3 linked regions of the Homo sapiens genome follow. The protein of the gene in region 3 interacts with the protein of the main gene of each other region in a biochemical or structural test. Each region holds a gene or a part of one and is shown on either strand. Other genes may lie near its edges.

Region 1 (4,027 bases), on a different chromosome or scaffold from region 3:
AAGCCTAGATTTCAGCTAAATTGCTTTTGCAAACCCAGATAGTTCCTGGACCCTAAGATTTGGAAGCTTTGGGATGAAAAGTTTAATTTCACAGACCAGTTCCTCAGTGCATTATTTTTTCTAGAATAACAACTTCTATTTTAATGACAGAAAAGCCAGCCATTTTCATCCATTCCCTGCTCTCACACCCAGCATCCCCAAACTCTCCAGTTGGTGATTGTTCAGCCTTTATCTTCCTGTTTTTCTCTTTCATTATTTCATTTTATATATACAGCACTGGCTTAAAAAATATACTAAACAGGTACATGTGTATGCTCTTAGAGGTGTAAATTGGCACAGTCTTTCTTGAAAGCAAACAGGCAATATATTACAAAGTTTTAGAAGTATGTATATACTTTTGAGGGCCCATTTTCACTTCTAGGACTATAACCTAAGGGAGTAAGTAAGTAAAAGTGCAAAGATGTAAATGTATATTAAAGGATATTCAAAATAGAGCTTGTATATTAAAATCCAAAACTAAAATATCCAACTTCAGAGGTGTTGAGTGGTTCCATGCAGTATTTATTCACTTGGGAAGGTACTTATCTTCTATTACTTGAAATTTTCTTCTAATTCTTTTCTATAATGAACATAAATTACATTCCTAACAAAGTAAATGTACCATTGGCTAAATATATTGATTTACTTTTTTCTTTTGGTCATGTGCCCACTATCAGAATCATGGATATTTTAAATTTATTCTGAAAAAAATTAATCCATGAAACTATTTAGCTCCTTAGCTACAGTAACTGTTATTGAAATGTGGTTAAGAATGGACATGTTCAGCTCTCAAAAGAGATTCACATTGAAAAAAAATAGCTTACTGAGCTAAAACAATTATAAGTGACAGAAGTACCTTTTTTTTTAAGGTTCAGAAAACGCAAATTATGTGTCTTCAGAATTTCCAAATAGTTACTTCTTAAACTATGAAGGTCCAGAGAAACGATTTACTGCAGCAAACACGTTTAATAAGAATACAAAATTCACACTAGAGGCACATTCTGGGGAATGTAAATGAACTATCACAAGTAGTAATTCTGCTGGAAGAATAAAATAAGGCTCTCTGAGTACAAATATACAGGAAGGAATGATTTAAAATAGGTATGATTTACAATCACATTACATTGTATTAAGCACTCAAAACAGGCATATTAATTAAAAAGCCAGCTAAAAGGCATTTGAACATATATAACAAATCTTACAGTCCACAAAGTTCATGTATAACGGTAATTTTAAGTACTTCATTTCAACACAGAAGAAATGAACAGGTGAGGGATGCCTCTCAAAATATTAATTTATGTCTATGACAAAAACTAAAAGAGCTTTACATTGAAAATGGATTACACTACTGATAGAACCATGTAGTGGACAGGGCAACCACATTAAAACAAAACCAACAGTGCCGAGCAACTAAAACAGTACTGGCCTTTCCAATCCTCTTTCTTCCTGGTACCACCACACTGTCCCAAATTACCTCTTCATTACCCAAATCAAAGAATCTTTCTGTTTTCCCAATCCTCAAAAGGAATGAAGAAAAACCAAAGAGCAAACTCAAAAGATGATTTTTACCATAAACCTCAAATGTGGCTTAACAAGTACAAAGAAACCCAACATTCATACATAGTGCTCCATTCCATGGAAGGAATAGACACATCAAACATTATCCAACAGGGGTTTCTTTATGGATTTTGTACATTGGTTGAACAAGAATTACTGTATCTGAGAAGGCACATATCTGTGATTTAAGGCTTAAACGGTATTGTTACATATGGAAGTCAATAAAAGCTGTCTATGTATTCACTTCTATCAAAATGGAACTGACCCAAAAACTAGTTTTCTAAGTACAGATTTCTACTCCAGAAACCATTAAGAATTTCCATTCCCACGTCCACCTGTCAAAAAAAAAAATTCTCTTAAGCAGGTTTTGTTATGAACCAAAAGAAATTGCAAATGTAACTGTCCAATGACTTCGGGTGAAGCAAATTCATAAGCTTAAAAGCCTCACAGAAATGACAGTGTGATTTCTGTGTCTTTAAAAAAAAGTCTAAATAAAATTACAGTGGTACAGATTCATTTTTAAAAAGGTATTTGCCACAACTCCACAAGCTAATCATTCATTAGAGCTGCTGCCTCTGTGTGGACGCTGCAGGAACACCATATAACTTTACTCTGCAAAATAGTTTCTTTTTTCTTTAATACATGAAAATGAATCTCTTAAAGATGTTTAATATATTCACATATAAAATATCTGATGTTGATACAAATCATGTAAACCTCCCTTTGGAAAAGTTACAATCGGCCCTCATTTCCAGGACCAAAAACCTTGAATTTTTATCTTGTCAGTGCAAATCTCTATTAGATGTTTTCAAACTACAGAAATAGCCATCAACCCTCACAATACAAAAGGATTTCTCAAAAAGGAAAATTATTGTGTTCAGATTATAGAAACTATGTTTACATTAAAACCACCCTTAACAGTTCAATTGTTAAAGTATGAAAAAGGGAAAAATTAAAGCTGTTTGTGCAAGAATCACTATAATGCTTGTCACCCCTCCCACTTCCCCCAACTCTGCTTAATTCTTGTTAGGTTGGTTTAGAAATATAACAACGCGACTTTCTTTTTATTTTCCGCTGTGATTTTACTGTTCTTCAAGCCAAGATGGGGCATCCACTCCAGGGGTTTTCAATTTGATATGGAACTGTTTAAGTGTCTGTTCAAGCTGCTTCTGATTCCCAGCAAAGTAAGCGGCAATGGCATTGTGGAAAAGGACCAGCTGATTGTGCAATACTTTAACCTGTGGACAGGGCAGAGTTACAAGACCAAGCATTAACACCAATAACAATAAAATAGAGAGTGATTTATTACATTCCTTAATTAAATAGTGTATCTCTCTTGAAGAAAAGCTGGCTTAATAATGACCAAGTATTTCACACATACCAAGTGTACACTGCCTTGCAGGGTCACTGAACCTTTGATGACTTTTTAATTACCCTAAAGAGAATAGGTCAGTTTTAAGATGCCCAAATATATACCCTATTAACCATTTTCAAACATTATTGAGAGGATTAATTAAAAATATCATTAAATCCTCCTCAAACTAAGTACATTCAAAATCATGTGAGATATCAAAAAGGGAAAATTATATATAATTGCTACACAATGTATGAATAGTAAATATGGACATCATTAAATCTAAGCTTTATGTAAGCCAAGTAGGCTGGATACTTTTAAATATTGACTTTCTTTGTAAAGAATCAAGCAAGTAGCAAGTGTTGCTCAGAAAATCAATTTACTTAACGCTCATATGACTCTCAATTATTTTCAACTGCTTATTACTTCTGCTGATATCAAGAGTATATTTTAACCAAGTCATACTACCTCTATAAGTCTTTCTTAAAGAAATAAACAATGCATCAAAAAGATTTATAAACTGTTTCCTGAGGTTGTTTTTCTTTTGTTTTGTTTTGTTTTTTGAGACAGAGTCTTGCTCTGTCACCCAGGCTGTTATGCAGTGGCACAATCTTGGCTCACTGCAACCTCTGCCTCCAGGGTTCAAGTGATTCTCATGTCTTGGCCTCCCGAGTAGCTGGGATTACAAGTGTGCACCACCATGCCCAGCTAATTTTTGTATTTTTGGTAGAGATGGGGTTTCACCATGTTGGCCAGGCTGGTCTCAAACTCCTGACCTCAGGTGATCTGCCTGCCTCAGCCTCCCAAAGTGCTGGGATTACAGGCGTAAGCCACCAAGCCCGGACATCTGAGGTCTTATTTACAACTGCAAAATGTTAAATAAGAATTCTGATTCCCATCCAATATGACATTCATTAAAATTGAACTTTAATAATAAATGATGTAAAAATATTTGAAACACGATGCTAAATGAAAAAACAGGATAGAAAATTTGTTTCACTATATTACACACACACACACACACACACACACACACACACACACACACACACACACTTCTCTCTAGCCATTTCTGAA
Region 2 (2,761 bases), on a different chromosome or scaffold from region 3:
CCCAGGTATCTTGAGCCATTCAGCACACTTTGTTCTGATTCTCACACTCAGGCCCTTCTCCCCCCATAGTGTGTGAGCACCTTGATGCCAGAGACCATCTTCCTCTCATCTTTGCAGCCTCAGTACCAAGGGCCATTATAAGCACAGCGCAGATTTCATGGAGTGGCTGAATGATTTGTTTGCTGTGTGATCACCTGTACTGAGTCAATATCGGTCACCTTTGGTCATGAGCATGCCCCTTGACCCAGATTCCTGCAGGAGCCTGCATATAGGGGCCCTGCTTGCTGGGACTGGGGATGGGGGTGGGGTGGGGAGTTCAAGGGAAGGCAAGGTCTAGGATATAAATCCCAAGGGCGTGGGCTCAGCAGGGCCCGTTCTCATGCTTTCTGGCCCGGGAGGAGTGATTCTCCATCTGGCAGGCCCAGCTGCAGTGCTGGGACAGGGACATGAGCAGAGGCCACAGGAGGAGAGAGGGAGGTTGTGGGGGGAGCTCGGGGAAGCCCATGGTAACCCGGGGGGAGGAAAAACAGCCACACAGTGTTATTGTTACAGAACCATTAAATACAACTTATACACAAGCAAGCTGGGCGGCGTCCGGGGGGCAGGGAGAGTGCAAGAGGGTCAGGGGTGAGCAGTCCGGGCCCGGTCCTGGAGGGGGCTGAGGCTGCCGTCGTGGGAGGGGCTTGGCTGGCGGAGGCCGGGCTGCCTGTGGAGGCCTTGAAGCTTTGCCAGCAGCTCCTGGATGAAGTCCTGAGACAGGGTGGGGGAGCTGAGAACATGGGAACAGTGCGGGGGCACCCTCTGCCCCTGTCCAGCCCAGTCCCTGACCTGGGCGCCTCCTCCTGTTCTCTGATTGTGGGGTGGGGGGAGTTAGGGGCGGAGGCTATAGACATAGAGAGAAAAGTGAGCCGGGAGAAAGACAGAGATGGGGAAAGGGCGATGGGAGGGATGGAGAGAAAGAGCTAGGAAGAGAGATAGAGATCCAAGGAGACAGATACGGAGTGGGGGAGGGGGAGAAACAGACACAGAAACAGAGAGACATGTAGAGATAGAGACAGAGAGAGACATAAGGACAGAGAAAGAAACAGAGACATGTGGAGACAGGTCCCCAGAGATAGATCCAGGGCGAACAGAAATGCAATGACGTTTGTCCCTAGAGCTAGTTGGAGAAACATGAATAGTTTTCCCTTTTAAAGCAGGGAAGGAAGTGGGAGGGGTTGGGCCGCTCAGCTTCAGGGCCTGGGAGGATGGAGGGCCCCCAGAGGTGGGGAAGGGAGCCCGGGGTGGCGGAGGCAGTGACAGGGGAGGACAGAGGGAGACTGAGCCCGAAGGCTGGTGGCCAAAGGACAGGCACAGGAGAGGCAAAAACAGGGCAGATGGGGGAGGACAGAATGGAGCCCCCTCAGCAGATGGGGGAGAGAGGGAGAGAGACAAGTAGGAGGACAAAAGACACCCCTGGAGACCAGAAAGAGCTGCGGAGGGCAGGTTGGGGCCGGGGGTGGTGGGGCCGGGTGGTGTTCCCCAGAGACCCTTCTGCCAGCTTCTTCCCCCTCCCCCATCAGAGTACTTGGGGCCAGAACAGGGAGAGAATGAGGGAGAGAAAACTCACCTCGACAGGTTTCCCACATGACTTCAGGAGTCCCTAAAACCCCCAACCAAGAACAAAACAAAACAGTAAATGACTAACACCTACTCCCCTCCAGCCCCTTCCCTTTCCCAAAAGGCCCCAGCAGCAAGACAAATGGAAGTCAGACTCCAGGGTGGACTGCCCACCAAGCTTCAAGAGAGGAACAGAGCCCAAGGGGCATGTGGATCGACTCAGGGCAGGGGTGAGTTACTAGATCCAGAGAGGGCGAGAGGGTCACACAGCACTTCCCTCCTCTAAAAAGGTATAAGCCATAAGCAAAGACATGGCTGCCAAACTGCCTGGGTTCGATGCCCAGCTCTGCTCCTTCTGAGCTGTGTGACACTGGGCAAGGGATTCAACCTCTCTGGGCCTCATTTTCCTCATGGGGAAAATGGAGCTCACACTAGCGCCTGCTTCGGAGGGTTTTGTGAGGGTTAAGTGAGTGAATACATGTAAAGCCATCACACCAGTGCCCGGCATCTAGTGAGCACTCAGTAAACACGTGAACTATTGCTATTATTTTTAGGGAGGTGCAAAGTGGGAGGCTGGGGGACACGTCCCCCCACCTACCTGGATTTTCCGGCTTCTCTCCTCTTCACTCTCTAACTCCAACAATTCATCAATGTTGATCTCATCGGGCATGTCTGCCTCCTAGGGCCAGGGAGGGAGGGGTGCTTAGGATCCCCTTCCCTCCCTCCCTCGCCTTTGTCCAGGGCTCTGCAGGAGCCCCACCGGCCCCAGGGCCCAGCTGGCGGGTTCTGGAGCATTAATGTGGCAGTCCGGGACAGCACTGCCAAGACGGGACATCTGGGTGTTGGGGGGGAGGGGTGACAGATGGGCTGAGAGAGCCCCGGGGCCCTGTACCAGCCCGATGCCTGGGCCCATGGGCCCCGGGAGCCTCGGGGCTGGCACGGGTCTCTCGCCTTGGCTCTAGTTCCCACAGAGGAAAACAGGCCTAGTGGAGTCCTGGAATGTCAGATTCTGGGATTCGGGAGAGGAGCTGGCTTCTGCCCTTTCAAGGAAAAGTCTTAGCACTAGGTGCAGGGGAGGAGAGGCTGGCAGCCAGCAGCCAGCTGGGGCGGCCCCTTCCCCCAGGGGACAGGAAGGGAGGGGACAGGAAGGGAGGGGACGGCT
Region 3 (7,123 bases):
GAAGGTCCATCACAGGATACAGGATCTCTGTGTGTTGTGACAGTAGGAATGGCAGAGTGTCAGTGTGGAGTTAAGGAAGTGGGAGGGAGTTCTTTTGTCTTTTATTTCAGTTTTTTTTTGGAAGTACCTTATGAGGACGTCAGCTATGAGGAAGGATGACAGGAGTTTGGGGATTGGATGTTTCAGGAGAGAGCAGAGGGTTTGAAATCATTTACAATTTACTATGTGGGCTGAAGTCGTGTGGAACTTACAGCAGAAGGTTCTCCTGATCTTTCTGAGTCTTCCACATCTGTTGTTTTAAATGTGTTAAGAAGTTTTTCATTCACTTTGTTCAGGAGCTCCCTAAGTACTAACATAGATCATACGAGCATTGGAAATATTAGCTGACAGTTTCAGTAACATCACAGGACATTTCCTTTGGGATGAGCAACTGAGGTGTACAAGGCTGCATAAGTTTCCCTGAGAAACTCACCTGTAAATTATTATTGTTATTATTTAGAATTTAGAGTATAGTTGTTCTCTAATTATGTAGCAGACACGATTGTACTTGAAACATTGTGATGGTAATTCAACAAAAAATACTTATTTTAAGATAACGTACCCTAAGTATATACTGACTTATATAAGTAAAGAATTATTTCTTTCATCTTCTAGTTTAGGTGAAAAATCTAGTCTTGCTTTTTTGTATGTAACAATGTATGGCTATATAATATGTTATTCTTTCTTTTTAGAAAGTATTGATCCAGGGTTTTATTTACATTATGTTTGTTTATTTAGTTTGCAAGTGTGTGACGTTGAAGCCTGGTTGTATATAAAGATATGTATTCTGTTAGTGTACATGGTTATTGTTTTCAGGAGGGTAAAAAATAATAACAATCATTGACTTCACTTTGAAACACTGTTACTTTCTACTGTCAAAGAAACCTTGAATATGTAGACTGAGGAGGAATTGTTTTAAAGCAAGGAAAAAAATTCCAGAGGAAGAGCTAGTTTGGTTTCATAGTACATCATCTACTTATCTACCACACACACAAACACACACACATACTTTTTTTTTTTTTTTTTTTTTCCTCAAATGAGCTGTGTTACTCTTTAGGGATGCTTGATGCCATTAATATGATTGTTCATTTTGGTTATTACCTTATTAGAAAGGCAACTGATATTTTACTCTTAAATGTACTTAAATGGAGTAATAGCATTTATAAGACTCCTGGCATATAGTTTCACTTTTCAGAATCATCTTTTGGCTAAAGAAATTTAACAGTGAGATTTTAAGTAGATAGCTCACTAAAGAAGTAAGGTTAGTGCCTTGGTTTGAAAGTAGCATTACTTTGCTTGTAATTGTTTCACTTTAATTGTATTATACATTGTTTTCTTAATAGTTGTGATGTCATTTTTCTCTTTATTACTAATTTTAGATACTCCACACATTCCACATAGATTGAGAAAGCCGAAAGTAATTAGGTGCTTGATCAATCCAACTCACCTGGACCAACAAACTCCTTTTAAACTAATGATGGTCTTTGGGGCTTAGGTGTATATATTTTTATTCCAATTTTATAATTGGCTATATTATATGTCTACTGATTTCTGATTTAATGATGAAGTATAGAATTTGTCATTTTACTGTGTGTTTTTTTTTTTTTTTTTTTGACAGAATCTCACTCTCTTGCCCAGGCTGGAGTGCAGTAGCACAATTACAGCTCACTGCAGTCTTGGCCTCCAGGCTTAAGTGATCCTCTCACCTCAGCCCCTTGAGTAGCTGGGTCTACAGGTATGGGTGACCATGCCTGGCTAATTTTTAAATTTTTTGTAGAGATGGTATTTTGCCATATTGCCCAGGCTGGTCTGGAACTCCTGGGATCAAGAGGTCCTCCTACCTCGGCCTCCCAAAGTGCTGGGATTTAAGGAATCCCACTGGGTGTGAGCCACTGGGCCTGGCCTATTAAGTGATTCTTAAGTAATATAATTTTAGTACTCTAATTTTATTTTTATTATTTTATTTTTTGAGATAAGGCCCAGACTACAAGTACAGTACATAATCATAGCTCACTGCAGCCTCAAAGTCTTGGCTAATGTGATCCTCCTGCCACAGCGTCCCAAGTGTTTGGGACTACAAGTGTGTGCCACCACATCTGACTAATTTTTATAATTTTTTTATACAGACAATGTCTCACTGTGTTGCCCAGGCTGTTATTGATTTCCTGGCCTCAAGCAATCCTCCCACCTCAGCCTTCCAAAGTGCTGGGATTGCAGGCATGAGCCACTGTGCCCTGCCTGTACTTTTAAAATTTAAATTTCTTTTCAAGTTTAATAATGTAACAGGATTATATTTTGGAACTGTATATTATGTATTACAGATGTGGAATTTATATGTAGTAGATTATGTTTAACTATTTTTTAAATATATTTTTAAGAGCTTCCTTATCCTTGTATAGCCTCCAGATGTGAAGTATTGTTTTATATTTTGTGTTATAGACTGCAAAAAATGAGGCCTCATCACATATCTCACAATCCCAAAGAGAAACTCTGCTTTACATTTTTCTTTTTTTCTTTACTTTTTCTTTTTTTTTTTTTTTGAGATGGAGTCTCGCTCTGTTGCCCAGGCTGGAGTGCAGTGGTGCAATCTCGGCTCACTGCAAACTCTGCCTCCTGGGTTCACAGCATTCTCCTGCCTCAGCCTTCCAAGTAGCTGGGACTACAGGCGCCTGCCACCATGCACTGCTATTTTTTTGTATTTTTAGTAGAGATGGGGTTTCACCGTGTTATCCAGGATGGTCTCGATCTCCTGACCTCGTAATCCGCCCGCCTTGGCCTCCCAAGAGAAACTCTGCTTTATATTTTTCTATCAATTCACAGACTTATAAACCTTTTTAAAACAGGTATGTACTATTTGACAGTTTTCACAAGAATATCCTGTGAGACTGTGAAGTTAAAACCATTAAGCCTTGTAGTCCATGGGCTGGGAAGAGTTGGATGATTGGCTCATTTGATAAATACATGAATTCATTTGGGCCTTTAGATTCAGAATTGAGATCAATCTGAAAGAGTAAAAGTACACTGTGTATGGTGGTGGTGGTGGTGGGGGTTACTGGAATAAGGTTTAAAAACTTGCCCCAGAAGACCATACTTCATGACTGTGCTGTTTATTTTCACCAGATTCCTATCATAGCTTTTATGGGAGATTTATAACTTTATTTTCTAATGATTATTACCTTTTTTTGTGAGATGATTGTATATAAGTCTTCACTAATTTATTCATGAATAACTGTTACTGACCTTACTAGAGAATGCAGAACATTTGTAAGTCAATGAATGTATATTTGTGACTTATCTAAGATTACTTTGAGATTTAAAGACAATATATGTAACATACATACTGCTTTGTAAATACGTGCATAATAAATGCTGTTGTTTACTAAAGCTTAAAGCTCTATAGACTAGCATACTGTCTTATTAACAAAAGAAATTTATATTTATTATCTTATTCTTATATCAATATATAATTAAAATTATAATATTAAAAAAAGCAATATGGCTGTAAGGCCCAGGTGACATCTTTTTCCTGCCCTCTGTATCAGGGCAAATCTTAGAAGTAGTTATGTTTTGAAACAGTTTCTCAAATCTCAAACTCTCAGCATTCTTTAAGGACTAATCTAATTATTACTAAATGAAAGACACATTTGCTGATAAAAGTAAAGCATATTTTCATTGCTTTTTATTATTTTTGACAGAAAGATGATTTAACTCCTTTTCAATTACAAGTGCAATGTCAATGGTATTTCACTTCATTTTTTAAAAAGGAAATAAAATAGATAAAGGTGCAACATTTGGGAACACAATGATTCAAAATTCTGGTTCTCAAGACCAAAATTTAAAGCTTATTTGCAGATCATCGCTTGATACATGAGAAGGAAGGTGCTTGGAAATGACGTAGGGAGATTGCAATTTGCTGTCATGCTAACATCTAGAGGTTGTTTGCTAAATTGTTCCATCTGATGATAGCTAATATAACATAATTGGTTGTGCATATGCAGAAATGTCATTTTGAGATGAGAAGGCAAATTTACTGGGAAACAATTGAGTTATCAGTTTGGCAAAACCAATCACAAGTCTTTTTTAGATATTCCCACTACCTACCACTTATCTGTCATGGAAGTCCATGCCCCATTATAAAACCTTTAGAAAACCACAATCTTTAATTATTTATAAATCTTTTAAAGAAGAGTGTAATGGATAATTATATGAAACTTTGTGTGTGTGTGTGTGTGTGTGTGTGTGTGTGTGTGTGTATTAGACTGGAATCATTGAATAAGCTCTCAAACTATACCAAATAACTAGTATAATGATCAATATTGCAGGGCTGGACTCAGACTGTTAGAACTTGGTAGAATGCAGTCTTATAGGTGTTGATGGTAACATGAAGTTTCCTTCCTTGCTTTGTTTTTATATTTGTTTGCTTTGATTTATGTATCAGGGTAATCTTTGACCTCTGACCTTGCGCCATCACCTTGTTTAAGGTGAAAAATCTAAACCCAAATGTGGCAATAGAGGTAAAAATATAGGGTGTTTTTTAATAATAAAAGATACTACTCATCTTTTAATTTCCCCAGCATTACTTTAGAGTGATTTTGAAAATGAGACTTCAATTTCTTAAATCTTTCCTTATTGTTGGAATATGTTGGAACAAAACAAGACAAGTGCTTCCTTCCTTCCTTGTTTCCTTCCTTCCTTTTCTTTTCTTCTCTCTTTTCTTTTCTTTCTCCCCTTTCTTCCTTTTCTCTTTTCTTTTCTCCTTCCTTCCTTCCTTCTTTCCTTCCTTCCTTCCTTCCTTCCTTCCTTCCTTCCTTCCTTCCTTCCTTCCCTCCTTCCTTCCTACCTTCCTTCCTCTCTTTCTCTCTCTCTCTCTCTCTTTCTCAGGGTCTCACTTTAGTCACTCAGGCTGGAGTGCAGTGGCACCGTCTGAGCTCACTGCAGCCTCAACTTCCCAAGCTCAGGTGATTCTCCCACCTCAGCCTCCCGAGTAGCTGAGACTACAGATATGTGCCACCACGCCTGGATGATTTTCTGTATTTTTAGTAGAGACAGAGTTTTGCCATGTTGCCAGGATGGTCTTGAACTCCTGTGCTCAAGTGATGACCCACCTGCTTCGGCCTTCCAAAGTGCTAGGATTATAGGTATGAGCCACTGCGCTCAGCCTCATTTCCCTCTTTCTATTGATAGAATTTAGATACAAAGAAAATGGTGATTTTCCTTACAACTATTCAAAACATTTTTTAATCTATAAGAATATGAGATATTTCCCACAGGAATTCTTTTAATACTGTCAACCAAATATTTTTGTGCCATTAAAAACCAGTTGTGATAGCACCACTTGAAGTTATTTGGCAGCAGAGAAATTCACGTTGTTCTGTTTCTTACTTTTTCTGGTCTCATCTAGAAAAACAGATCATTAAATATACAGAGTGTTCAATTATATGGCCACTATGGCTGTTATGGAATATCATATAATTTAAATAGTTAAGAACTGGTACAAAAACAATGCATATTCAGACAAATTTCGGCTGTCTAAATCTACAGTTTCCTGTGTAGAAGTTTCTTCCAAAGTTATGAAAGGTTTTATTTGGCTTAAGCCAGACAATTGATATAGTAGCTTAGCAATGTTGGCAAACATGAAACTTAGATTTTAAAATATGCAATCACACAGGAATTTTGTTCAACTTATTTTGGTGAAAAGGAAAAAAATATACACCCTTCACTAGTTCATTGGCATCTATTCTGACTAAACCACTGATTGATGAGGAACTAGTGAATGTATTGCTTGTTTTTAGGCACAATTTCAGGAATTTCTGAATGCTTCTCTCCTTAATTGTCAGCAGCCACTTTTCCCCGCATATATTATAAAACAGTTGAAAAGTATTAATTTAGTAATGAAAATATGAATGAAAAGTATGAATGTGCATAATATATGGTGTTGTTGATAATTAGTTTGATTTTTTCCTACACTCAGTGTTCTTACAGTTAGGTGATTCTCTCAACCTGAGCAATTGCTCAGTGTAGGGTGAAAAGATTAAAGAGATTGCTTATTTGCAGTTATGTAAATATCCACAGTAATCATGAACATTTTTATTTTTCAGTTTGTTTGATTCCATAGCAATTCTGGTTAGGAGTGGCATGTTATACAGGCTTTTGCAAAAGTATTGACATTATTTCACACAATGTCTTGTACAGTCAGAGAGATTGGGGAGGAGAGGACTGAAGGGGCAGTTAAAAACTAGAAATAAAGAGTCAAGTGGTAAATTGAAAAGGCCAGAAAAGTGGAACATTAGATTAAAGGGTCACCACTTGTGTTACGGCAAGTATTTCAGCTACTGTGAGCAGGTGAACATTGAGATCTAATGGTTAGCACCATCTGAAAATATATTCAGAAGCTTCCTAATCAAATTGTACATATGGTACATATTTTTGGTGTCATTGGGGTCATAATAAGTGTTTTTCTTTTACATTTTTGTAAATTACTATTTGATATTTTCATAGTTCTGACTGTTTGAATTACCTGTCTCACGTTGAGTTCCCTTTGTAACACTGCAGGTGATCCTACAAGATTCTTTCTCCCTCCCCAGCATTATTAAGGTATAATTTACTAATAAAAATTATATATACTATGATATATAATGTTTTGGTACATGTATACATTGTGCAGTGATTAAATCAAGCTAATTAACATGTCCATCATCTCACAGACTTATCTTTTCTTGTGTGTGTGGTGAGAACATTTAAAATCTACAATCAGGCAATATATTTCCTGCTTTGAAAAAATCAATTTTGGGGTACTAGGCTTAGTACCTGGGTGACAAAATAATCTGTACAGCCCCCCCATGACACAAGTTTACCTATGTAACAAAACCGTACATGTACCCCAGAAACTAAAATAAAAGTTAAAAAAATCTATTTTTTACTTAAAAAATTATCTACAGGTATGTAGATTTGCTATAATCATACTCTTCAGTTCATAGCACATTTTTTTCATCAGTCCAAGTAAGGATCCTATTGCGTTATGTTTTATTTTGTTTCATTATTTATTTTCAACCAGGCATTGGAAGAACTGTGGTATAGGTATGAA

The links.
Region 1: of the proteins of PRKD1 (region 3) and ARFIP1, one has a biochemical effect on the other in vitro, tested with the Homo sapiens proteins (one study listed by IntAct).
Region 2: the proteins of PRKD1 (region 3) and PPP1R14A form a complex in vitro, tested with the Homo sapiens proteins (one study listed by BioGRID).

What each region holds. Positions count from the first base shown.
Region 1 is NC_000004.12:152,908,871-152,912,897, reverse strand, and holds the end of ARFIP1 (arfaptin-1), read right to left. Parts: intron 2,835-4,027; coding exon 2,679-2,834; 3' UTR 541-2,678; downstream 1-540. UniProt on the Homo sapiens protein: Plays a role in controlling biogenesis of secretory granules at the trans-Golgi network. Mechanistically, binds ARF-GTP at the neck of a growing secretory granule precursor and forms a protective scaffold.
Region 2 is NC_000019.10:38,250,697-38,253,457, forward strand, and holds the end of PPP1R14A (protein phosphatase 1 regulatory subunit 14A), read right to left. Parts: intron 2,279-2,761; coding exon 2,198-2,278; intron 1,643-2,197; coding exon 1,610-1,642; intron 751-1,609; coding exon 622-750; 3' UTR 541-621; downstream 1-540. UniProt on the Homo sapiens protein: Inhibitor of PPP1CA. Has over 1000-fold higher inhibitory activity when phosphorylated, creating a molecular switch for regulating the phosphorylation status of PPP1CA substrates and smooth muscle contraction.
Region 3 is NC_000014.9:29,917,757-29,924,879, reverse strand, and holds part of PRKD1 (serine/threonine-protein kinase D1), read left to right. Parts: intron 1-7,123.